Linked DNA regions of Homo sapiens: all the other regions are linked to region 1. Evidence: fine-mapped expression QTL. A gene starts in region 1. Each other region holds a variant in brackets. All regions are shown on one strand. Distances are from middle to middle.

The links. PIP is the estimated chance that this variant, and not a neighbour inherited with it, causes the effect.
Region 2: its variant is fine-mapped to the expression of GNG2 in whole blood (TOPMed, PIP above 0.99).
Region 3: its variant is fine-mapped to the expression of GNG2 in cerebellar hemisphere (GTEx, PIP above 0.99). The same link has a PIP of 0.9 or more in cerebellum.

The regions. Positions count from the first base shown.
Region 1 is chr14:51,856,289-51,864,475 of GRCh38, reverse strand. GNG2 (G protein subunit gamma 2) reads right to left here and starts at 3,864. Exons shown (of 4, transcript NM_053064.5): 1 at 3,686-3,864. RefSeq lists enhancers at 3,748-3,957, 3,744-4,245 and a silencer at 4,298-4,377.
Region 2 is chr14:52,001,715-52,009,901 of GRCh38, reverse strand. It overlaps RTRAF (RNA transcription, translation and transport factor), which reads right to left. Exons shown (of 8, transcript NM_016039.3): 6 at 8,036-8,104; 7 at 5,660-5,708; 8 at 1-5,540. The coding sequence ends at 5,386. NID2 (nidogen 2) reads left to right here. Exons shown (of 22, transcript NM_007361.4): 19 at 1,935-2,092; 20 at 3,242-3,365; 21 at 4,053-4,165; 22 at 4,406-5,093. The coding sequence ends at 4,416. Among named protein-coding and RNA genes, the nearest start is that of RTRAF, 16 kb to the right of the region's middle. The variant AGCT/T (reference allele first, on the strand shown) is at 3,869.
Region 3 is chr14:51,801,725-51,809,911 of GRCh38, reverse strand. LOC101927598 (a long non-coding RNA gene) reads right to left here. Exons shown (of 8, transcript XR_002957605.2): 3 at 1-1,291. Among named protein-coding and RNA genes, the nearest start is that of GNG2, 55 kb to the left of the region's middle. The variant A/G (reference allele first, on the strand shown) is at 5,016.

The DNA.
Region 1 (8,187 bases):
AAATACGAAGATTATGATTATTATCTAATGACACATTATGTTAAAAGATCCTGCCATTTGCAAATGTCTCTTCAAAAATTTGATTAAAAATTTGCAAATATTCTCAACACAGTATTTCTGGGGAAAAACATCAGCAAGGAATATGAATAGACATTTTTCTAAGAAGATATACAAATGGCCAATGAGCACAAGAAAAGATGCTCAACATCACTAGTGATTAGGAAAATGCTCATCAAAACCATAAAGAGATACCACTTCATACCTCTTAAAATGGCTATTATCAAAAACATAAATAAAAAACAAAATAAATATTGATGAGAATGTGGAGAAGTTGGAATCCTTGTTCATTGCTGGTGGGAATGTAAAATAGTGCAGCTGCTATGGAAAACAGTATGGCAATTCTTCAAAAATTAAATATATAATTACTGTGTTCCATCATTTTCACTTCTGGGTTCCCAAAAGAAGTAAAAGCAGGGACTCTAACAGATATTTGTACACCCGTGTTCATAGCAGTATTATTTACAATAGCCAAAACATGGCCCGAGTGTCCATCAAAAGAGAATAAACAAAGTATAGTCTATACATTCAATGGAATATTATTCAGCTTAAACAGGAAGGAAATTCTAGCACATGCTACAACATTGATGAATCTTAAAGACATTATGCTAAGTGTATTAAGCCAGTCACAAAAGGACAAATATTGTATGACTTCACATATATGGGATACTTGGTCACATTCATAGAGACAGAAGTAAAATGGGGGTTTCCAGGAGCTGAGAGAAGGAGGGAAAGAGGAGGTATTGATTAATGGGTATAGAATTTCAGTTTTGCAAGATAAAGACAGTTCTATGGATGGACGGTGGTGATGACAGCACATCAATGTACTCGCTACCACAGAACTGCATACTTAAAAAAATAGTTAAAATGGGAAATGTTATGTTATGTATATTTTATCACTATAAAAAAAGTCTCCCTAAACCTGTGAGGCAGTGGTAAAGACCAAGAATATGCTAACTTTTCCTTATGCCACCAAGGAAGAAAAAAATAACATTTCAGTACCTTCTATGTAGAAATCACTCACTTATCCGCACACAAAAGCAAAAACAAAGCAAAACAACAACTTTGATTATGTATTACTAGCCCTTCTTTACAATGAGGAAACTGAGGTTCCTAAGTTAATGTACCAAGGTAAGTAGTAAGAACCAGTAATAGGTTTCAAAGGCAGATCTGCCTGGCTCCAAAGCCTGCGTTCTTTTCACTCCACAGTGTTTTCTCCTACCCACAGAAGTCTTTTATGAACAGGCTTTCTACTTTGACTATACAGCTTTTAGACTTAAAAGTTGGGCCTGCTTTCTGAAGCAGGCTAAACAAAGTCAGTCAAACAAACACATTCACTACATGTCCACCATATGAGGCCCAAGGCTGGCAATGAAATAATGGAGTCATGTTTCCATTCAGCCATTGGCCATATGGCAGAAAAAAAAAAAAAAAGCACAATTAAAATTTCTGTGTTGGTCTACTCCTCAAAAGCCAGTGAATACCCCAGGAAAAATCATTAAGTCTTTCAATATTCCATATGGCCAGAATAAGTGGAAATAGTTTCATTTTACAATGTAGAAGCATATTCATCTTTTTCCTAAACATTCTACCATCATAGTTACTGATCTGCTGTTACTCACTAATGTTCTGCTTCAAGCTGGAATTTAACGATTAAGAAATGTTTTGTGCTGTGCAGAAAATAGGCACCTCTTAGTTGTTTTCAGAAAGATAGCAAGGCCCTCTTGACTCTACTATGCCCGTCGGGCAAGGTTTCATTTTCTTACTCATGTGTGAAACACACACAGAAGACTAATGCAGATTGTCTGTGCCTCCCCAAACAAAGTAGGGTGTTGGCATTATCTAGTGAATACAGCCTGCAGAGGAGTAAGTACCAAAGGGTAAGCCTGTCCTTATCCATGCAGCTCAGGTTGCCAACTTTTTACTTCATTTCATGATGCACAGCTTGATTCTAGAACTCCACTGGGTCATTCTGGATCGAAGATCTATCCTAGGTCTCTTCTCTAAGAAGATGATCTTTACATACTTCCCTTTAAGATGCAAATAGGAAGTGGAACTGCAAAATCCATGTCACGACTTGTTTTGCCCACAAGTTTGATTAAATTCAGTGAATCCTTCAAGGAGTTCCATGGTTTCAATACTAGCAGTACTTTGTCTCTTAGGCATGGTGCAGGTTTACTTTAATGAGCAAAAAACCTCTGAGAAATAGACTTTTTTTTTCTTTAGTAGCTATAAAAGCTTCCCATCTCTCAAAATGTGCTGCTACTCCACAGATTTTGAGAAGCCATATCGATTTCATAAAGATAGCATTAAAAATAGCCCTATAGCTCTTAACAAGTGAGAACGATGATAAAGGAGGAGGCATATACATACATACACTCTCAACTAGCATATTTGGTATCTAAGAACCTATGTTTCAAGAATCTGTGAGTGTCAAAATATTGACTTTTTTTAAATTTTTACTCCACTATAAGCAGTTTTTTCTCTTTCTTTTGAAAAATTATCTCCTTTCATTATAGAAACTCTAGAAGAAAAACCCTTTTATCAATGACTACTTACTGCTTAACTGTACTTTCTGTTGAAGATTAAAAAAGCTTAATTCTTTAAATCGTGCTGCATGAGGGTATTAAACTCCCTAATATATCCTGTCAGAGGAATCTCACAATCTCAGTTCTCATCTGCTAGACCTATTTAGTGTACTTTTACATATCATTCATAAATATGAACAAGTCATAGACCCAGGCTCTCATTAAGAACATCCTTTGCTCAAGAAAATCAAAGAATAAAAATCATGTTCTGGTTTTACTACTTCAGTCTATCTACCAGATATTCGCGTAAGGAAACAACCCAGCTGCACTTTTTTATTTTGTCCCTCACCGAGGCTAACATGCACCTTGACCTAGAGGTGAATAAAATGCATATAAACATAAAATCCATGCATATGCTAGTATCTGATTCTGGACAAGTTACTGGCCTTAAACCCGCCACGCTCCTTTGAACAAGGATGCAACTTTAGGATAAGACCTACTGGCAAATGATAGCTGTGTCTGAGGTTATCCTGAAAGCAGCTGCACAAGCTGAGGGAGGAAGACACTGTTTTTTAATGGTAAATACTGCCCCTCACATACGCAATTCAAGCCTTTGTTGGCAAAATCTAAGTACAAAAGAATTTAACTCCCCCAAAAGCCAAATCACAGCCATTATTTTTGCAAAACAGAAGATATCCCAGTGCAATGTGTAAGAAAGAGAATGCAATTAATATTTTACACCACTCACTCCCCTAAAACAAGGGGACTGCCGGGCTCCGATGACCAGACCACAGCTTCACAGCCCCAGATGGATTTCGACTCAGCCCTGGTTTTCCTCCGAGAGAACTATACAAACAGCTTCTTGTATTTAGCATGTTGGCCTGTTTAGTCATCAAATCTAAGCACTGATGATGAGGTTTTTTTAAATCAAATGTGTCATAAATGTGGTTATTCTCAAAGACCCTTCCAAAAGAATCTAATCATTTCCCCTAGTCCTGAAGCGATGTCTCTATCATCCCTTAGAAATCGGACCTTAAAACCACAAGCGACGGTCGTTTTTCTCAATTAAAAACGAGCAACATGGAAAACGTTTCATTTACCTTAGCTCCCGAGGCTTGGTCCGAGGAGCGTGGTTTTCCCCTCTCCGGAGCTGATCTGTGCAGGCGAGCTCCGGCGCAGCCCAGCCCAGCCCAGCCCAGCCCAGCAGTAGTAGGAGTTGCCCACGGAGCGCGGCGGCAGCGTTGTGAGTATGTGTAGCAGCGGCTGCAGCCCAGGGACTAGTCCCCACCCAGCTTTGTCTTCAATCAACGTTCTTTCTACAGGAAGCAGCGCATCTCCCACTTCCTCCTCTTCTTGGTAGCTGTTAGCGGCTTGCTTCTTTTCCCTCTCATTTCCATTTCAGGGCTTACTCTGGTGGTTTTGTCTGCTCCTGGGCTGCTGACAGTGATTTGACTTTAATCCCCCTTCTCCCTTTGTTCAAGTCCCTCTGGTGCTGTCTGTTCCTTCCTTCCCCTTTTCTCATCCCCCCACGGTCACCTCCACGACAGCTTCCACACACTGCTCAGTCGGCCCCCTTCCTGGCACACTGCCTGCTTTTTTAGCCTGAACCTGGCTTGTTGCTATTGTTGTTCTTGCTGTTGTTGTTTCTACTGCTGCTGCTGTTTTTTTTTGGGTCAACATCCCCTGGCCAGGTTCTGGCCCCCGAGATCCCACACCAGCCTCCACTGTTCCTCCTGATTTACTGTGGTCCCCATCAAGCCAGCTAGCTGGGAGCTTGCAGCTTGCAGCTTGCAGCTTCTCACTGCAGCATTTTTCTCTGTGGCCAACATTTCAGAGGCTTCATTTCTCCAAGGTCCCACTACCACTGAGATCTTACTTAACCCACATGCTCAGAAAAGAATGGCCCTGATAAGTATTCTTATGGGGCACGGGAACTAAACCAAGTTGGCAATGCTACCTATAGGCCTAATAGTGAGGACTATTCCCAAAAGATTCTCATAGATGGGAAGGAATGAGGTGGTGCTGAATGCTGCACATTCCCAACAGAGAAACTGAATACTCCTCTCCCCATTCCACACACACTAGTAGGGCTGAAGGACCCTCATGATCCTCCAGTCCCTTCCCTTCATCTTAGGAGGTAATATCGTAGAACCCACCAGGGTAGAGCCTGCAAGCTGTCTCTGTCTGCCAGAATTTCAATCCAAATTGCCATTAATGACTGTATGAACTTGGGCAAATTATTTAACATCTATGTGCCTCAGTTTCCTCATCTGCAAAACATAGTTGATGATAGTCATGCTCTACATTGGAAATATGAGGATTAAATGAGATGGTATACAAGGTGCTAATAATAGTTCTGGGGATATAGGACGTATTCGGCACATATTAACTCTTATTATTTTTAGAGGATGTTGGGCCTCACATTCAGCAAGTGATTTCGCCAGTCAGCAGCCGAACCCTCACCAGTACTTGGTTTTCCAATTCCTCACTATTAGTATGTTCACAATTGAGCCCAGATGCTTTAATAACAATTTATTCAACGTGTGAGTCATTCTCCCCCTAGTACTAACACAAGGTACTTTGGGGAAGCTACAGATTAAACATGAGATGGGGGAAGGGGAATCCTGTTCTAGTGTCCAGGCAACATTATGGAGTTAAAAACAAAAACAACAACAACAAAAAACACCTCTTCTCAGGAATCAGTGCCTGGAAAGCTAATCTTGCCAGGAAACAGTTAATTCCCCAACTCCTCCTTTTTAATCCAGTTTTGCCTTAATCCTCCAGCAAGTAAACTAACAGGAAATGTTAGAAATCTAGGACTGATGGAGAATAACTCTCCAGTTGAGCCTTCCAAACACATCGTGAGGACCACAGCACGTTAACCTAGAAGGTACAGAATTTAATTTCTATGAAATGTTCTGAGACAGTCCCAAAACACCCTTTGTTTTGATTTGAACAGTTTGCTTATTTTTTCAAGGAAATCTTTCATCAAAAAGGACCCTGATGTCAACTCACTCACACCTGAAAATTACAAAATGGATTGATTTAAGATTGAAAATGAGCAACTAGCTTTGATCCACCAGCAGATAGAAATGCAGTAGTGAGAGGGATTGGGCATGAATCCACCAACATGTGAGTTATCTCCAAACCAGGAACCCTTGTGCCAAAGGTTACCAGGAACTTTTAAATGTAAATTTAAATATGCATGATGCCAAGTCTAAGAAAAATGAGAAGCATGTTATTAATGGTTGGAAACAAGACTATGGTTAATTTTAGACAAGTAGGTTCTGGCATAAACTCTAGATTCAAGTACAGTAATTTTTTGTGTCTTTTTGTTTCTAACTCTCTCTCAACCATCCTCCGATGGTTGGTATTTATATTTAAGCCTATATAGGTTGGTATTTATACTTAAGCCTATATAGGAAAACCTCTTTCAAACAATAAAATCTCTAGGAATTTTGCCTGCTGCCTTTTAATTAGTTCTTCCATCTCTGGCCCTTATAAAACTCACAGTAGGTTAATCGCCAGTGTTGGGAGGTGCCAACAAAACTCTATACAAAGCTAAAAACTAGATTTTAAGACCTCTCTTTCATTAATACCTCATTGCTTTTCAACTGGTCCTAATAGCCTCTTTTTCAGGAGAGAAAAGTAAAGTGTGGGGGTATAGCTTGGCCAGGATAGATTAATCCAGTTTAGAGCTCTTAACACAAGTTTGCATACCAAGTTTGCAAAGTGTTAATTTCTTAGGAAAATGACATCTCGCCATTAATAGTTTATGCATCAATTGCTAACCATGAGCCTATCCCAGTACATTTTATCACTGGGTAAAACAAAGTCTGTAAAATACTCTAACATTCATGCATGGCCTATTTGCAGGCATTAATACCTTGTATTTCTTACATCTACTGGTAGCGGAGGTTGGGTAATGAGGAGGACATAATTTTGGCCTGATGTCTCTCCTATGTTATTGAGCTTTCTAGCTGGATGTTCCTTGGAGTTATGTTTAATAATCCCCAAATTATGTACTATACCTTCATCCAAAGCCTGTTCCTCTTTCTATATTCTCCATTTCATTTAATGAGGAATACAAACCAGTTGCCCACATCAGGAATATAAGAATAATCCCAAAACCTTTTATCTTTGTTATCCCAATCTGATTTAAAGTTCCTCTTCCTTTCCTTCTCACCACCAAACTATCTCCTTGCCCAAACCCCTCCTCTCTCTTCCTCTTGCCACTGTCTTATTTTACAAATGCTTTGGTTTTTTCTGTGCAATTACAATACTTTCTACTTTGTCCTCCTACCTCCAGTCTCTCTTCGAAGCCATCCCCATCAGAAGTACATTGCTGAGATGGAGAGTTGATCAAGTCACTTTCCTACTATAATTCTTCAGTATCTTCCCCTCCAGGTTGCTTACAGGATATATGCCTTAATTCCTCTGCATGGCATACAAAGCCTTCTGTGATGTCACCTGTCCACATTCTCACCTTAGGGCCTGTCGCAGCCTTATATCCTACAACCTTCACAACAGGTTCCTGATGGGACTGTGCTGCTTTCTCCCTGCATCTTGGCACATGCTATTTCTGTTGCCAGAAATGCCCTATCCCTTCCTCTATTTTGCCTGCTAGTAAACCCCTACTTATCCTTTAGGACTCAGCTTTTCTCAGAAGCCTTCCCTGGCCGTGGAAACTAGGCAGGTGCTTCCTTTTCTGTGAGTATGACTGGTGCCTTGCCTCTACTTCCATTTCAGCACTAAAGCCATTATTTTCAGGTTTTGTTAGATGTGCATCTCACCCATTAGCATTTGGGTCCATTAAGGTTAGGTCCACATTTGCTTGTCACACAGCAGAGTCAACAGATGTTTGTATAATGAAAAGGCATCATTGGCAGAAATTCCATTCCTTTGAGTGAGGGGAGGAAAAGGAAGTCTCAAAAATGAGAAGTTGGTCATGGGGTAAGAAATAAAATCCCTCCCTCTCTATATATATATTTTGCAAATTTTCTATAGAAATCCATGGCACATGCACACAAAATTCTGAATATTTGTTATATGGGCAAGCCTAAAAAATTCTGGGACAACTCCTAGTTCCATTTCTGCATTGAACTTCTTATAAAGAAGCATAGTCTGGCAACAAAAAAGTAATTAGAAAATAAATATTAAGGCTGGGCTCAGTGGCCTATGCCTGTAATCCCAGCAATTTGGGAGGCCAAGGCAGGCAGATCACTAGGTCAGGAGTTCAAGACCAGCCTGGCCAACACAGTGAAACCCCATCTCTACTAAAAATACAAAAATAAGCCGGGTGTAGTGGTGCACGCCTGTAGTCCCAACTACTCAGGAGGCTGAGGCAGGAGAATCACTTGAACCCAGGAGGCAGAGGTTGCAGTGAGCCAAGATTTTGCCATTGCACTCTACCTGGGCAACAGAGCAAGACTCCGTCTCGAACAACAACAACAAAAAAGAAAAGAAATATTAAAAAGAAAGCTATTCTTTATTTGTATCTCTGTAGGAACTTTAAAGAGACTGATGAATAAGCTAGAAACACTTCTCACATCCCCTTCTGCACTCTCAAATCTTTGCCACATTCCAACTGTCCCAGAGCATC
Region 2 (8,187 bases), 150 kb before region 1:
AATTCTCCTGCCTCAGCCTCCCAAGTAGCTGGGACTACAGGCATGTGCCACCATGCCCAGCTAATTTTTGTATTTTTAGTCGAGACAGGGTTTCGCCATTTTGGTCTCCAACTCCTGACCCTGGGTGATCCACCTGCCTTGGCCTCCCAAAGTGCTGGGATTATAGGTATGAGCCACTGCGCCCGGCCCCTTATTCCTTCTTGGTGCTTGACCTGAAAACTGGGGAGAGCTGCCATCTTGTAGGCAATGAAACTTTGGCCATGTCTCTGGAGTCTGGGGAAAAAGCATACTTTTAAGCTGAAATCCACATCACAGCCATGAGTTTAAATATGAAAGTAGAACTTTCTTATCCAGACAGCAAATATAAATGCTAAAGGACTTGAATTTTTAATAAAAAGAAAACCCACCTTGAACCAGGTTGCAATATAACACATGTAATTACATCTCCTTCAACTGCGTAACAGAATGGTTGTCAAGCCTTCCTGCATATTTCTCATTTGCTTTCTATAGATTTCACCTTTACAACTTTCTTCCTCTGGCAATCCCCAAATAATTTACACCAAATATCTGTGTGAGCTTGTTTCAGACTTATTGTTGTTGATGATATTAAATCATTTTGGGGAGGAGACTGATCAGAAGCGATGAAGCAATGATATGCATGCTGTACCCTCTGGCCACCTCCACCTTAGCGCAAAGTGGAAACTGCTTTCTAGCTTTTGCTCTCAGCTTCTCTCTGCTTCATCTGTTGGGCATAAGGGATGAAATTCGCAACAGGGGAAACCTATGGTTTCTTCCTCTCCTCTCACTGAGGTTCTCTGTAGCCCAACTGATTTATTCAAAGCTTCTATAGCTTTTATAAAATAGTATTTTATAAAAAGTGCTTTCAACATTATTTCTGCTCTAACGATAAACCTGTTTGTTTCCTTATAACCTATTTCCACTTAATAGGACCATATTTCCTCGTTAGTATCTGTTATGAATATATTTCATTTTTAACGTGGCATTTAAAAGGTAAAGTGCTTAACTTAAAATGTTTCCATCCCTGGGTGCCAGGTACCCCTTCAAGTACCAAATTGTATTTTTGGCAGAAGAAAGAACAGTTTCCTTCTCAAATCCCTGGTCCACATCTCTTCAAGTTCCATAGTTTGTATCGAAGCCATTCCTAACAGCTGTATTTGTTTCTATTCTAAAACCCAAGATCCAATTCAAGACTTCAACAAACGGAGGGTTTTGGGGCAGTTGAGTCAAGGGGTATCTTGGAGGCAGGGATTCTGATAGTAACTTAGTAATGACTTCTCCCACATAGTGACAATAATCAGAAAACCTTGTGATACAGGTAAAAGTGGAATATGGCTGTGTATTAGTTACCTACTGCTGTGTAAGAAATTGCCCAAACCCTCAGCAGTGTAAGATAACATTTAGTCTCACAGTTTCTGTGAGTCAGGAATCCAAGTGTGTCTTCACCGAGCTCCCTCAGGCATGGAGTCTCTCACAAGGCTGCAATCAGGTAATGGCCAAACTGCAGTGATCACAAGGCTCAGCTCGGGGAAGACACAGCCCAAGCATGCTCACATGGGCTACAGGCAAGACTAATGTCTCTGGCCAACAGCCCTCAAGGACATCAGTTCCTTGGCACATGTTCCCCTTTACAGGGTAGCTTGCAACATGGCATCCAGCTTCCCTCAAAGGGAGCAAGAGAGAGCCCCTAAGGCAGAAACCAGTTTTTTGAGACCGAATATCGGCAGTGATAGCCTATCACTTCTGCTATACTCTATGCACTAGAAGAAGCAAGACACTACTAATGCAGCCCAAACTCAAGGGGATTGCTTAAGGCTATAATACATGAGGAGATGGAGATCACTGGGGGCTGCTTAGATGCTGCCTACCACAGGCTACATGGCTATTCTTTTACAATCTTGATTTTTAACTTACAGCAACTTGTACTGGACAGACTGGAATAGAGAAGCTCCTAAAATTGAAACGTCATCTTTAGATGGAGAAAACAGAAGAATTCTGATCAATACAGACATTGGATTGCCCAATGGCTTAACCTTTGACCCTTTCTCTAAACTGCTCTGCTGGGCAGATGCAGGTAATACTACTGATGGAATGCAAATAGATAACCTCTCATCACAGTGAATGTGAGCACTAACAGATTTTACTACAAAATGAAATCCCATCACTTAGATCTCCTTTCTTTGGTCTGTAAACTTTTAAGTACTAGTAAATTTAAGTACTAGTAAATGAGTCTTAAAATGAACTTTCTGGGGTTTGGGTGGAGGGAAGGATATATCAAGCAGTAAGTTTGTACTGCTTGCCTGACCATGAGTGCCTGGCATATTTTTAACAGTTAAAAGAATTAGCCATTGTTGAATTGACAAACTTAAGTGAAGTTATTCTTATGCGGGGAGAGGGTCACTATAACTTACCTATAAACATCTGTTATAATGCTAAGGACATTCTTTGGAAAGCATTGTAGCAGGGTAGCTTCCTTCAGTAATAACATGGGTATTAGCAACCTACATTTGTTTGCTTTTATCAGCACAACTGAAAAAATGCTGTGTGTCTAGTTCTATACTAAAGAATATGAAAAAGACTGTTCTTGAATTTGTAATCTAATAAAAGGGCCTAATGTACATAGGTCACTTTTATAACCCAGTTGTTTAAAACAAGTTACATTTCTTAAAAGGATTTGAAATTTAAATCGGCTCCATGAGAAATGTGAAACTTGGAAATTCTTGAATGGTTTAGCTATTGTAAAAATTTTTAAGACTGATTCCTTTACATTGAAATATGAGTTATGTTACCATTTTAGTCACTTTTTTCCTCCTACCTAGAAAATATTTTAAAAATACTAAGGATTTTGGTTAAAAGGTTGCCTCAGTAATTATAGACATAGCTTACAAAGGGCAAGTATTTACCCAGATGTTATAATTTATAAGCTAAGGCTTGAAATCACACAAATTATAAAAATAATTATGTTTAATGCCCTACTTTGGCAGAAACTTACCAGATTTCAGTAAATGCAATCCTGTCTTCCAAAAAAGGATTGAAAGTTTGAATCTCTACTAAAAACTGGAGACTAGTAATAGGACAGGTAATTTTACAGTTGCTAATCTATGACTGTAATGGAAGTAAAATATCCTATTTCCCCATTCTATCACTGTGTCACTATCACTATGTCACTATCATTTTTGGCAAAGCAGCTGAAGGACCTCATTTTCCCCCTTTGTTTTAAAAGGAACCAAAAAACTGGAGTGTACACTACCTGATGGAACTGGACGGCGTGTCATTCAAAACAACCTCAAGTACCCCTTCAGCATCGTAAGCTATGCAGATCACTTCTACCACACAGACTGGAGGAGGTGAGCCCCACAAATTCTGGACAAGCCTGAAAAGGCCAACTGTTCCAGAGGACACACCACTTGTTTTACCAAAAGTCAGTACCTGACTTGACTCATTAAGCCCTCTGAGGCTTTTGTTTCATCACCTCCTCATTGGCAGATAAGATCCTTCAAGGATGTTTTTCATCCTTTCATGTTTTTGAAATCATCCTTTTACTTCACCCAGAAATCGAATGGTATTGCTCACATATAGCTTAAAAAGTAGCAAAGCTATTGGATAATGTCTCAAAAGGGAGCATATTAATCTAAATATGTTCTTTAGAGAATAAGACTACCCTTGATACCATGAGCTATATTACAGGGCTTAAGTTGGCTTTTGACACTGTGGACATATTGTCTGAGGGACCGAAAAATACTATTTAGACTAGTTCTCAAATGAGGAACTGTGGAACATTAAAGTCTAAGCCCTTTACACCATGCCCTACAACTCTGATTTGATAGCTCATCATGTGATTCTAACATGC[AGCT/T]AGAGATGAGCAATGGATTTAGAGCAATGGTCTTCAAACTTCAGTATGGCTTTAGCACCAGCCCTGGGACAGAGAAGGCTGCCAGAAATTTTCCTCTATTGCAACTGATTTTCTGTGGCTGACTGACTTCTTTATCTAGTAAATGACTGTCCCTGAATTCACTCTTCCTTTCTGTTACCAGGGATGGTGTTGTATCAGTAAATAAACATAGTGGCCAGTTTACTGATGAGTATCTCCCAGAACAACGATCTCACCTCTACGGGATAACTGCAGTCTACCCCTACTGCCCAACAGGTAAAAAGTATGCTTTAGGATGCTCCTTTAAATTAGCAGGGTAGAGAAGGGATATATATGGTATTTGATTACCCCTGCTGCCTGTGACACTGCCACCATTGCCTTCTTCCTGCCCTGAGGGCCAGTCTTTACTACCTTAAATCTACCTAGTTTATACACAAAATGCAAAGACTTGCTGTTGCAACTTGGTTACAATATACTCACCCACCACCCTGTCCCACCCCTGCTCTTCTCTCACAGGAAGAAAGTAAGTACAGTAATGTAAAGGAAGACTTGGAGTTTACAATCAGAACCTGGACCCTAAAGAACAGTGACTGCAAAGGCAAAGAAAGTAAAAAAGGAATTGGCCATTAGACGTTCCTGAGCATCCAAGATGAACATTTTGTAGTGCAAAAAGACTTTTGTGAAAAGCTGATACCTCAATCTTTACTACTGTATTTTTAAAAATGAAGGTTGTTATTGCAAGTTTAAAAAGGTAACAGAATTTTAACTGTTGCTTATTAAAGCAACTTCTTGTAAACATTTATCATTAATATTTAAAAGATCAAATTCATTCAACTAAGAATTAGAGTTTAAGACTCTAAACCTGATTTTTGCCATGGATTCCTTCTGGCCAAGAAATTAAAGCACATGTGATCAATATAACAATATAATCCTAAACCTTGACAGTTGGAGAAGCCAATGCAGAACTGATGGGAAAGGACCAATTATTTATAGTTTCCCAACAAAAGTTCTAAGATTTTTTACCTCTGCATCAGTGCATTTCTATTTATATCAAAAGGTGCTAAAATGATTCAATTTGCATTTTCTGATCCTGTAGTGCCTCTATAGAAGTACCCACAGAAAGTAAAGTATCACATTTATAAATACCAAAGATGTAACAATTTTAAAATTTTCTAGATTACTCCAATAAAGTGTTTTAAGTTTTCCTATGACTTAAGGATCTATATTGTCTCTAGGACAAAGCTGGGGGTTGGCATATATGCCTTAACCACAAAGGAGAAAGGTGATTTATGCAAACATACAGTACATAATAAAAATTCTACTTTCCTAAACTTTATTAAAGAAAAAAGCAATAAGCAATGGTGGTAAATCTCTAGAACATACCCAATTTTCTGGGCTTCCTCCCCCGAGAATGTGACATTTTGATTTCCAAACATGCCAGAAGTGTATGGTTCCCAACTGTACTAAGTAGGTGAGAAGCTGAAGTCCTCAAGTGTTCATCTTCCAACTTTTCCCAGTCTGTGGTCTGTCTTTGGATCAGCAATAATTGCCTGAACAGCTACTATGGCTTCGTTGATTTTTGTCTGTAGCTCTCTGAGCTCCTCTATGTGCAGCAATCGCAGAATTTGAGCAGCTTCATTAAGAACTGCATCTGTTTTATGAGAAAAGAACACTGCTTCAATACATAATTTTTACATTTAAGGCCATTTATTTCCTCCCAAGTATTCAGTCTGTAAAAAAAATAGTTTGAATTTAAACAAAATCACTTACCTCCTGTGTCAAAACCAAGAATATGTTTGTCTAAAGCAACAGGTAAGCCCTTTAAAAAAAGAAAGACAAAATGAGAGTATTTATGGTTAAGAATAGCATCCTTTCCTCAACTGAAACTGAAAAGCACCTAGCTATTCTGGTGTCTTAACTCTTTTAGCTGCATGGGCAAGGGAACTAGGAATTTTGTTTATATTTGCTTTGTGATGATTGTGATTAGCGAGTTTTCCCTATTTCAACCGGTTAGGGGGAAAAGTTAACCTTTAAATGTACCAGGAAGCTCTATAGCTCATCCAATCCTTTAGCCCAGGCATACAAAACAATATATCCTTATTGCAGCAGTGCCTTGTCATTACTGCTATGGAAGGCAAGTTGAGCCAGGCTGTTACTGTCTTATTTTGGCGACAGTAAGCAACAGTATAAACGGCAAAAATAGTACCTTATATTCCATTTCTGAGCACATTAATTTGTCTTTACAAATTGTACGAACCTTTCAGCCAGCATGGTGTTTGCCAAGATTATGTATAATTATGTATAATTTAACTTTCAAGACTTGACTTGGAAGTTACTTTGAAACAAACAGTCTAGGAAAATGAAAAACTAAACCACTCAGCACCTATGGACATACTAAAGATGGTGACTATGGTGATGCCAAACTTCACAGAAACAAATTCTAAAATGAGGACAGTCTGTACTTCCTGCTGATTATATAAAATCACTGCCAAGAAAAACACACTACCCGTACTTTCAATCTTTCAATGTTACAACCTGTTACTATTCAAATGCTTTAGTCACTGCTCAATTCTTGCCTTATCTAGTAATGTAAATCTACGTAGGCTCTGTCTGCTTTAAAACAGCTAACACATGTAAGTCTGAAGAAACCAATGGGTACGAAAGCACAAGTGAGCAAAATTAAAGAGCAGAATTGTACTGAGTGGCTTTATATGTTCATCTAGTACCAGAGGCTCCACTTTTTTTTCCTTTGCCAACAGGCCACCAAGCTACCCCTGAAAACTACCATATGCCTCAAATAGTAGTTATAAATGCTTATAAGTACACTAGACTGTAAGAACTCCACTAAATTGTTATAGGCTGGTATCTTTTGAGATGACACCAAAATTAAAATTGGGAGCATTAAAAATAAAACTAAATTTTACTTTACAAACAAGAGCAAAGAGATTTGGCTAAGCCTTTACTTACACTGCCTTCCAAAGCATAGTTTTGCTGAAGGAATGAATGAATGAATGATTGACTTTATTACACCAGAACAATTTACTGTCTGTTCTATAGGGAGGGTGAAATAAGCTGATCTTTAACCCAACTTCCAGTGGCTCGATTCATATACAACGAGCCAGTAAGAACCTTTAAAAGAAAACAGTGTCTTTCAGAGATACTGCCCTGGCATTAGTAACCTTTTAACACTGCTTGGCCTGCCTAAAGGGGCTGGAGGACAAAAGGCATTGGGAGATGGGGGAAGGGCGCAGGGAGGACAAACAACATAGTTGTGCCCAAGGCATTCACTACAACATCATTGCTGCAGGAGGCAGGTGTTATCAGACACTGCTGCTGCTGACCTGAGGACAGTCTCTCCACCGCTGCACAGCCAGTGAAACTTTAGGCATCTTTGGATTTCTGATATAATCTAAAAATGTTCCATATTTTCTCTTTAAGGGGAAGGTAGTCATGGGATATAGCTTTTCTCAGCCTACAAGGTAGGACTGAAAGATACCATTTCAGTCACCTGTACCTTGAACCTTACACTCCAACAGAACCCCCTGTCCCTTCACCTGGGCAGACTGACAAGCTCATGCAGACATCCACGCATGGACCCTTCTCCCCACCTACCGTAAGAGCACAGGCTCTCAAGTCAGACTGCCTGAGCTCAGTCACTTACCAACTAGGTGACCTTAGCCAAATTACTTTCTCATGTTTTATGCCAGGAAATTGAATAAAACAAGAATTTACTCTGAAGAAATAAGAGCAAGGATAGAATTTAGATAGAAAAAGAAAACTAATTTGTAGTGAGGTGTGTTCCTTCTTCTCCAGCATGAGTCAAAATAATCCAGTAAGTTTCATATGGGTAACTCATTTTAAATAAACTTCAACGGGCCACAAGCATGATTTGTGGACTGTGCATGAGCTATTTGTGGCTTTTTTAAGGTACAAAGTGAGAGGAACATGAAGTTTTTCACTCAAAAATGACCCCCTAGCCACTGAATACATTCAATTTGCTTTAGGAAGCACTGAAGTAAGCTATCCTTTCTCTAAGTTGTAGAACGTAGAATGGATATCTTAAACAGATACATGCAAAGTTTAAAATCACGGCCATACCAGAAGAAATGTTCATTAACAACTTATTTAGGATTTATAGAAACGTACCTCTTTTGTTTGATTTGCCTTAGCAACTGCATCCTGTGTCAGGCGCTCCTGAACCAAAATCCGAATTGCCTAAGAAACCCAAAAATATTTTTACTTTTTATAGGCTGTGTACCTGTCATCCTTTCTTCTATGAGCCCAGAGAATAAGGATGC
Region 3 (8,187 bases), 55 kb after region 1:
TAAAAGTAAATGCATGAGACATAATCCGTTTTTATCTTTGCATTACTCCTGTGAGACAAATATCATTATATCCATTTTACAAATGAAGAAGCTGCGATACAGCAAGGTTCAGTAACTTGCCCAGAGTTACACAGCTAGAAGGTGAGAGAAGGGGTTTAAAGCTAAGGCTTTCTTATTTCAAATCCCAGGCTTTTAACGACATACCATGTATTCTCCCATGGATTTTTGAAAGTAAAAACATCATAGTTGGAAAAAATGAAGAGTTGATACAGAGAAGGCTGATACAGAGAAAGCAGCTTACATCTGTGTCTTGAAGACTGAATGTTCAATTCTGTATTCAGTAGCTTGTTGCTCCATAATTGTCAGCTGCATCTTTTTGCCTCAGCAATCAGGTCTCCATGCCTCCTTCTCTCTCACATCTGCTCTGTGTGCCCACGTGTCTGATCTACATGCTGCTGCAGTGTGGGTCTTCCTAAAAAACTATCTTCTCATGTCACTTCCTCCTGGGACAGCTTCAGAACCTACCAGTTAAAGCTCAAATTCCTTATCGTGGCACGGAAAGCCTTCCTCACCTTGCCCTGCCCTTACCTTCTGATCTTTTCCTACACCATCTCTCTGTTTCAGTCAAATGTGCTTAATTCACTTTACTAAGCCATAAACTTTCAGGGTAAGAAGGAACTTTAAAGTCAAGTAATTCAAACCATCTGTATCAGTTAGCTATTGCTGTGTAACAAACTACCCCAAAACTTAGTGCTTTGCATTTCTAACAATTCTCAGGGTGACTGGGTCGTTCTTTTGTAGATGTCACTTGCGGTCACACATATGGCTCCATTTGGCTCTAGCTGGGCTGGACGGGAAGTTCATGAAGGCCTCTCTCACACCATGGGATCTTTGTGTTATCAGCCGCTGAGTTCCAGGGTTCTTCCACATGGCCTCTCACTCCACGAGGCATCTCGCTTCACGAGGCATCTCGCTTCGTGAGGCATCTCACTCCCAGGACTTCTGCGTGTGACCTCTTGCTCCACAAGGTGTCTAACCCTCTGGGGCTTCTCCATTCGGCCTCTTGCTCCATAAGGTGTCTCCTCCTCTAGGCCTTCTCCACGTGGCCTCTCACTTCACAGGGCGTCTCATCCTCCAGGCCTTCTGCATGTGGCCTCTTGTTCCATGAGGCATTTTACTTCTAGGCCTTCTCCACATGGCCTCTTGCTCTGTGAGCTGTCTCATTTTCCAGGGTTCTTCCGCATGGCCTCTCTCTCCAGCAGGATAATCTTAATGTTCTTATCCTTGGTTTCTAAAAGGGAAAAAGCAGAAGCTATTGTACTTCTTAAAGCTTAGGCCTCTAACATATACAATGTCACTTCTGCCACATTCTATTGGTCAAAGCAAGTCACGGAGCCAGCCCATATGGACTCCATCTTTGGAAGCGAGGAGTGGCAACGGGAAGCTGTGGCAATCTTCTCCCTCTCCCTCTACATACCTCTGCCTCTGACTCTTCTGACATCTCTACCTACTGTTCTTTCTTAGCATAGCCATATTACAGAGTTTAAAGAGTGGGCTCCAGGGCTACCCTTATCTAGGTTTGAATCTCAACTCTTACCTACTCTTTGAGCTTGAGCAAGTTACCAAACTTCTTTGTGCTTCCATTTGTTCAACCATAAATTACAGGGAAATATAAATCCTACCTTAGAGAGTTGTTGTGAGAATTAAATAAGCTAATACAAAGGTCTGGAACAGTGTCTGGCTTTAGTAAGTGCTTCATAAATGTTAATTAGTAGTAGTATTTGGTGGCTCTAGCTCTCAGTTTGGTGCAAAACACAAAGAAGTCAGGTGAGGCCTAGGGTTTAAGCTCCAGGGCAGGGGAGATTAGAAGTAATATATACATAATCCCTAAGGAGTCACCGTTGCACCAAAATGCCTTGATTTAATTGATTAATGAGAAATATTTCAGGGGAGGGTGTCTAAGTGCTTCTTCAGCTTCTGAAGTGCTCCTCCTATCATAGAACCCCTGTTTCTGTAAGGTGGAAACGCACAACCCATGCCCTGTAAGGTAATCTCACAGTCATCTGAGGTTCCATTTACCTAGTCATGTTGCAACCCTCATCTTATCAAACCTTGGACTCCCAATACTGAAATTCCCTTTTTACAAGGGCACTTTTCAGATCCAAAGGAGAAGTCTACGGCAGAAGCTTGTCCGCAGGATTCTGGATACTAGCAATTCCAATCTTGGCATGCAACACTCAGCTCTGAGGAGCAATGATTTACAGCAGCAGAGTCTGGGCAGGAGACCCAGCAGCTCCTGCTACACGTGACGGAGCACAGATCCCCGAGTGAGGGCAAGTGGGGATGAGCTAAGGGAATGAATTGTGAGCTGAGGGCAGACCTCTGCGGATATTGCTAGCCTCTCTCCCTCTGATCATTAGTCATATATTCTGTGGCTTGTGAGTCTTATTTTTCCAGTTCCATTTGTTTTGTTTCATGAACAGGTTAATCATTGCTCTTACTAACAGAGAGAAAGAAAAGCATGATTTAAATTCACTCAAAGGCTGAGAGTAATCATACTAATGCATTAGATCAGATGATGCTTTGGGGCAAGATTGCTATTAGTCTGCCATAACTCATCTGATAGTTCTGTAATAAGCCTTCCTGCCATTATTTATTATTTGTTTTGTAGCATGAAATATACAAAATATAGTTACAGAAATGAAAGTGGTATGTAGAACTTATGCCTAAAATTCTGAAATACATTTGTGTCCTTACTGTCTTCGATTCATGTAATATTTTTGGAGTACCAAGTATGTGCTAGGCACTGGGAGCAAAAGGGAATATGGGAAAGGGAATCAGGTGTTTATTGAACCCATACTCTTGTCAAGGCAGCCTGACAATATCAGATTCCTAGTGGGTCCTGGAAGTCATAGTCTCTGTCCTCAACAGCTTATGATGGTGCGGAGATGGCAGGCACACAGACATGAATAGATACAAATAAAAATCAAAGACAACATACTACCATCAAATACTTTGAGGCTAAGTGAGAGTATGGATTGTAAGTGTGAGCTCCTGTGGTCATGCAAGTCTTTCTTCAGCCCCAGGGCCCTGGACAGCTACAGTCTGGAGGGCTGTCTTTGTAGTCCAGAGCCCTGTTTCTGGAGGAAGGTTCCATGGAGCTCACACTTAACAATCTCAGCATGGGCTTGGAGTCCAGGATAAGGTTCTGGGCCTACCATATACCAGCTGTGAGAATCTGGCAAGCTACTTGACTCCTCTATGCTTTGGTTTCTTCATCTATAGCTTGTACATGAGTTAAATCCAGCTCAGAGGGCGGCGATGAAAATTAAATGAAGATAAAATACTCAGACTAATCACATCATCAGTACACTCTAAGCTCCAGATCTTAGAGTTTTTATTGTTTTGGTGAATGGAGAGAAAGGGGGAGGAACAACATCAGAGGTTTACAGTAGAGGCTGATCTAAGCCATCTGTTACAGGACAAGACTAATTAGCCTGGGGTCATCGCAGCCTCTCCCACTCTCTATCCAGAGTGTGTGGGAGATAGAGAGAAATGGAGGAGGATGGGATTTGCTGCAGCCAATCTCTTGTATTTCCTTTGACATTCTCCCAGAGGATCCAGTAGGGTTTCAATTGCTTTTCCATCATTCTTGCCCTCTAACTGCTCTTTATGTAAATATGGCATGGGCAGAGACTGGCAAGGGGGGGTTCTGGTTATTTCCTCCTAATTGGAAGTGATCTCAGCCACTCTGAACCCTCAGGCCACGTTGTTTGAACTCCCTTAAAAAAAATCTTGATATAGTTTGTACCATAATATGTTTCCTTTTGCAGATGTCATACGTCCCTGATAAATCTCATTAGGATAAAAGCTGGACCTTAACTTGCTTTGAAATCTTGCTTTGCACAGAGTAGCTTGTGATGATTATTGTCAAAATAAAGAGAAGGGTATTTTCTAGGGTTAGAGATAAACCCACTACTGGAAAAAGAAGGCTCCAACCGTAAATAGTGGAAATCTTAAGAATTTTATAATGTCAATCTTGAATGGGATTTTAATTCATTCTAGGAACTGGATGGGAATCTTCAATCTGAAGGGAAGATTTAACTACTTGTTTTTATTTCAGATACTGGCATTGGGCAGGGCTGAGAAGCCTCTGCCAGCCTTGGGCCAGGAGGGGCAGCCGCACTTTTGTTCCCTGCTGAGGTATAGCACTCTATTAAGATGTGCTGGAGTGGGGGCTGTAATGTAATTGGCTTCCCAGTCAGATAGCTGTGACCATCATTTGAAGGCAGGAGAGATATTTTAAAATGAATTTCACTTTCAGCCTAGGATGCCAAGGAGCTTCTTCACTGTACAATATGAGAAAAAAGCAACATATCATCCATATTACAGTTTAGAAAATATCACAGGAAAGGAAGATACACAGATAAATTTTGGATTTATCTTTTCCAGTGGTATCATTGCATAAGACATTCTTATAAGCAAAAATGGAAGTTTACAAGTAGTTTAATATTTAGAGCATTTAATTCACTCCTTCCCATTGCCCCCAGGCTGGGGGGCACGAATGACACAGGAAGGCCAGTCTTCATGGCGTCCCATTGAAAGAAGGACTTCAGGGAAATAAGAGGGACAAGGTACGTTCTATAAACCAAGCAGAGCGTGACCTATTGTTAAATGCCCTTTTGAGGCTGGAGGCTCTTGAACAAGGCTCTTCAACTCTGGATGCACATTCCTGTCATTTTTTTTTCCTGTTTGATTTTTACTTTTTATTGAGATATGACATATATCTGGTAAAGTGCCCTAGTCTTACGTGTAAAGCTTGATGAATTTTACAAGGATTTTTTACAATTTATAAGTAGTTTGTACTTTTATATTATATATAAATATATAATAAATACTGTGTAATATTTTATCAAATGCATATACAACAATTTATTCATTCTACTATTGATGGACATTTGGATTTTCCCATTTTTTGGTTATTATAAATAAAGCTTCTGTGAACAATCTTGCAC[A/G]TGTCATATCCACTCAATTCTAGGAGTGGAACTGCTGAGCCATAAGGAAGGCATATGTTTAGCTTCAGTAAATACCGCCAAACGTTTCTAAAATGTCTATATCAATTTCTATTTCTACCAGCTATGTAGGAGAGTTCCAGTTGCTCTCATATAACTTCTCCAACAGTTGGTATTATCCAATTTTTAAAACGTTAACCTGCAAAGCTTTGATAAGGTACTACTCTTCGAAGTCTTATGAAATTCTTCTGGGGCAGGATCTATTTTTGGAAGCTCTGTGAGTGTCTTTGCTTTCCCAGGCAATGCTAACATGCAGCCAGGGTTGAGAATCATGCCATAGAGAGATGTCCTAATTTGGCTAGTTATTGGAATCAACTGGAGAACTTCAAAAACTATAGGTTCTTGGGTTCTCTTCAGACCTGCCAAATCAGATCCTCCAGGAGAGGTTTTCCCAGAGAATCTGCCTATATAGTATTTCTTTTATAACCCTTTATGTTGCAAGTGATAGAAAATTTATATCCTGGGTTAAATTTTAAAAAGAAAACATTAAAATAATTGATTTATATAACTGAATAGTCCAGATTGAGCCCTGACTCCAGGTACAGTTTGATCCAGGAATCAAATGGTAAGTCTTGATCATAACTCTTAGTGCTTTCTTTCCATCAGGCCCATTCCCTTCATGGCAGCAACATGTCTGCCACAGTTCTCAACCTCAGAACTTCACTCAGCACCACCTAGGTTGCTACCACATTCTGAGCAATCCTCATCTTCTCAACAATTCCTAGTATTTATTGTGTCTCATTGCACTGGGCAACACACTCATCTCTGAACTAATCACTGTGGCCAGAGAAGATGGAAGGTGCTGATTGACTTAAGGCAATCCCTTAGAGCTGAAGACTAGGTCATTTAACCAAAATATGTGACCAAAACGTGTGGATGAATTTCCCAAAGGAAAATCAAATGGATGTTGTCCAGGGACATAAATAATGTCCACATTTACTATGTGACAGTACACTCTGTAGTCATCAAAAACCCATTTTGGAAAGCAACTTACAGCCTTCTGGTCAAGAGAGTTTCTCTAGGGAGTCTGGGCTAAGCCCCACAAGGTTGTCAAGATGTTTGTTTTATTGTCTTCTTTCCCCTTATCTCAACAGTAGAGAAATGGAGGATATTCTTGAGGACAGAAACTAGAAGGTATTTTTGGAGGTGAGGGAGGGTTGGTTTTGAGATGTTCTCAGGGCTAAGTACTGACTCCTGTGTCCAACTCTTAGGCTTCATTCCCCCAGCCTAGAAATAAATTTGCTAAATTGTAGTTAGTTCTTGATTAATAGGTATCCACTCTCTTTTTAAATTATTATTATTATACTTTAAGTTCTAGGGTACATGTGCACAACAAGCAGGTTTGATACATAGGTATACATGTGCCATGTTGGTTTGCTGCACCCATCAACTCATCATTTGCCTTAGGTATTTATCCTAATGCTATCCCTCCCCCAGCCCCCAACCCCTGACAGGCCCTGGTGTGTGATGTTCCCTGCCCTGTGTCCAAGTGGTCTTATTGTTCAATTCCCACCTATGAGTGAGAACATGCAGTGTTTGGTTTTCTGTCCTTGTGATAGTTTGCTGAGAATGATGGTTTCCAGCTTCATCCATGTCCTGCAAAGGACATGAATTCATCCTTTTTTATGACTGCATAGTATTTCATGGTGTATATGTGCCACATTTTCTTAATCCAGTCTATCACTGATGGACATTTGGGTTGGTTCCAAGTCTTTGCTATGGTGAATAGTGCCGCAATAAACATACGTGTGCATGTGTCTTTAGAGTAGCATAATTTATAATCCTTTGGGTTCTACCTAATGGATATATCCCAGTAATGGGTCAAATTACCATTTGATTGCTGGATCCAATGGTAATTCTAGTTCTAGATCCTTGAGGAATCACCACACTATCTTCCACAATGGTTGAACCAATTTACACTCCCACCAACAGCGTAAAAGTGTTCCTGTTTCTCCACATCCTCTCCAGCATCTGTTGTTTCCTGACTTTTTAATGATCGCCATTCTAACTGGTATGAGATGGTATCTCATTGTGGTTTTGATTTGCATTTCCCTGATGACCAGTGATGATGAGCATTTTTTCATATGTCTGTTGGCTACATAATTGTCTTCTTTGGAGAAGTGTCTGTTCATATCCTTTGCCCACTTTTTGATGGGGTTGTTTGTTTTTTTCTTATAAATTTGTTTGAGTTCTTTGTAGATTCTGGATATTAGCCCTTTTTCAGATGGGTAGATTGCAAAAATTTTCTCCCATTCTGTAGGTTTAGGCATCTACTTTCTGAAGCTGTGGAATTGGACTTGCTTCCTTAACAGCTGTCCTTTCATACACATACTCTAGAATAACCTGAACAGGCGGTTGCATGCCTGGCATCTAGTAGATAGAGGAATATACAGAACAGTCCCTACCACAAAGAATTATTCATCTCCAAATGGATAAGTGAGGGTGAGAAATGTGCCTATGAGCAATGGAGCATGTTTCATGGAGCATTAGCTCATGTTGATACTTTCAACCACCTGCTCTGGGTCCTTCTCTCTGTTTTTAAAATATCTTGTTACATAGGTAAGTTTCCAACTCTTTCATACATACTTATATATATATATAGAAATAGTGTGTACACACCCCTACCTAATTTGACATTTGCTGTTACATATTATCACACCAAATCCTGTATTCAAATTACAATGCTGCCCAGAACTGCAGACATTAACCCCACCCCATAAAAGAGCATTTGTTGTGCACTGGTGGCTTCATTCTAGGTTACAGGCTGATTCATATGATTTATAAACAATATACCCATTAGGTAGAATTTTCACAGGAGAGTGTGGTGGTCATGATTTTCTTTTTTCTTCTTTCTTCCTTCCTTCTCTACCCTCAGTTCAGGTGTCCTGGAATAAAATCCAAATAGTGCAGAGAGGTCTATGATATATTGGTTGGTACTATCAGAGAGTAGCACCAGCTGTCAGAAAAGAAAAACAAGGCCAGGTGTGGTGGTGCACCCCTGTAGTCCCAGCTACTTGGGAGGTTGAGGCAGGAGGATCACTTGAGCCTAGAAGTTTGAGGCTGCAGTGAGCTGTGATTGCACCACTGCAGTCCAGGCTGGGAGAGAGTGAGACCC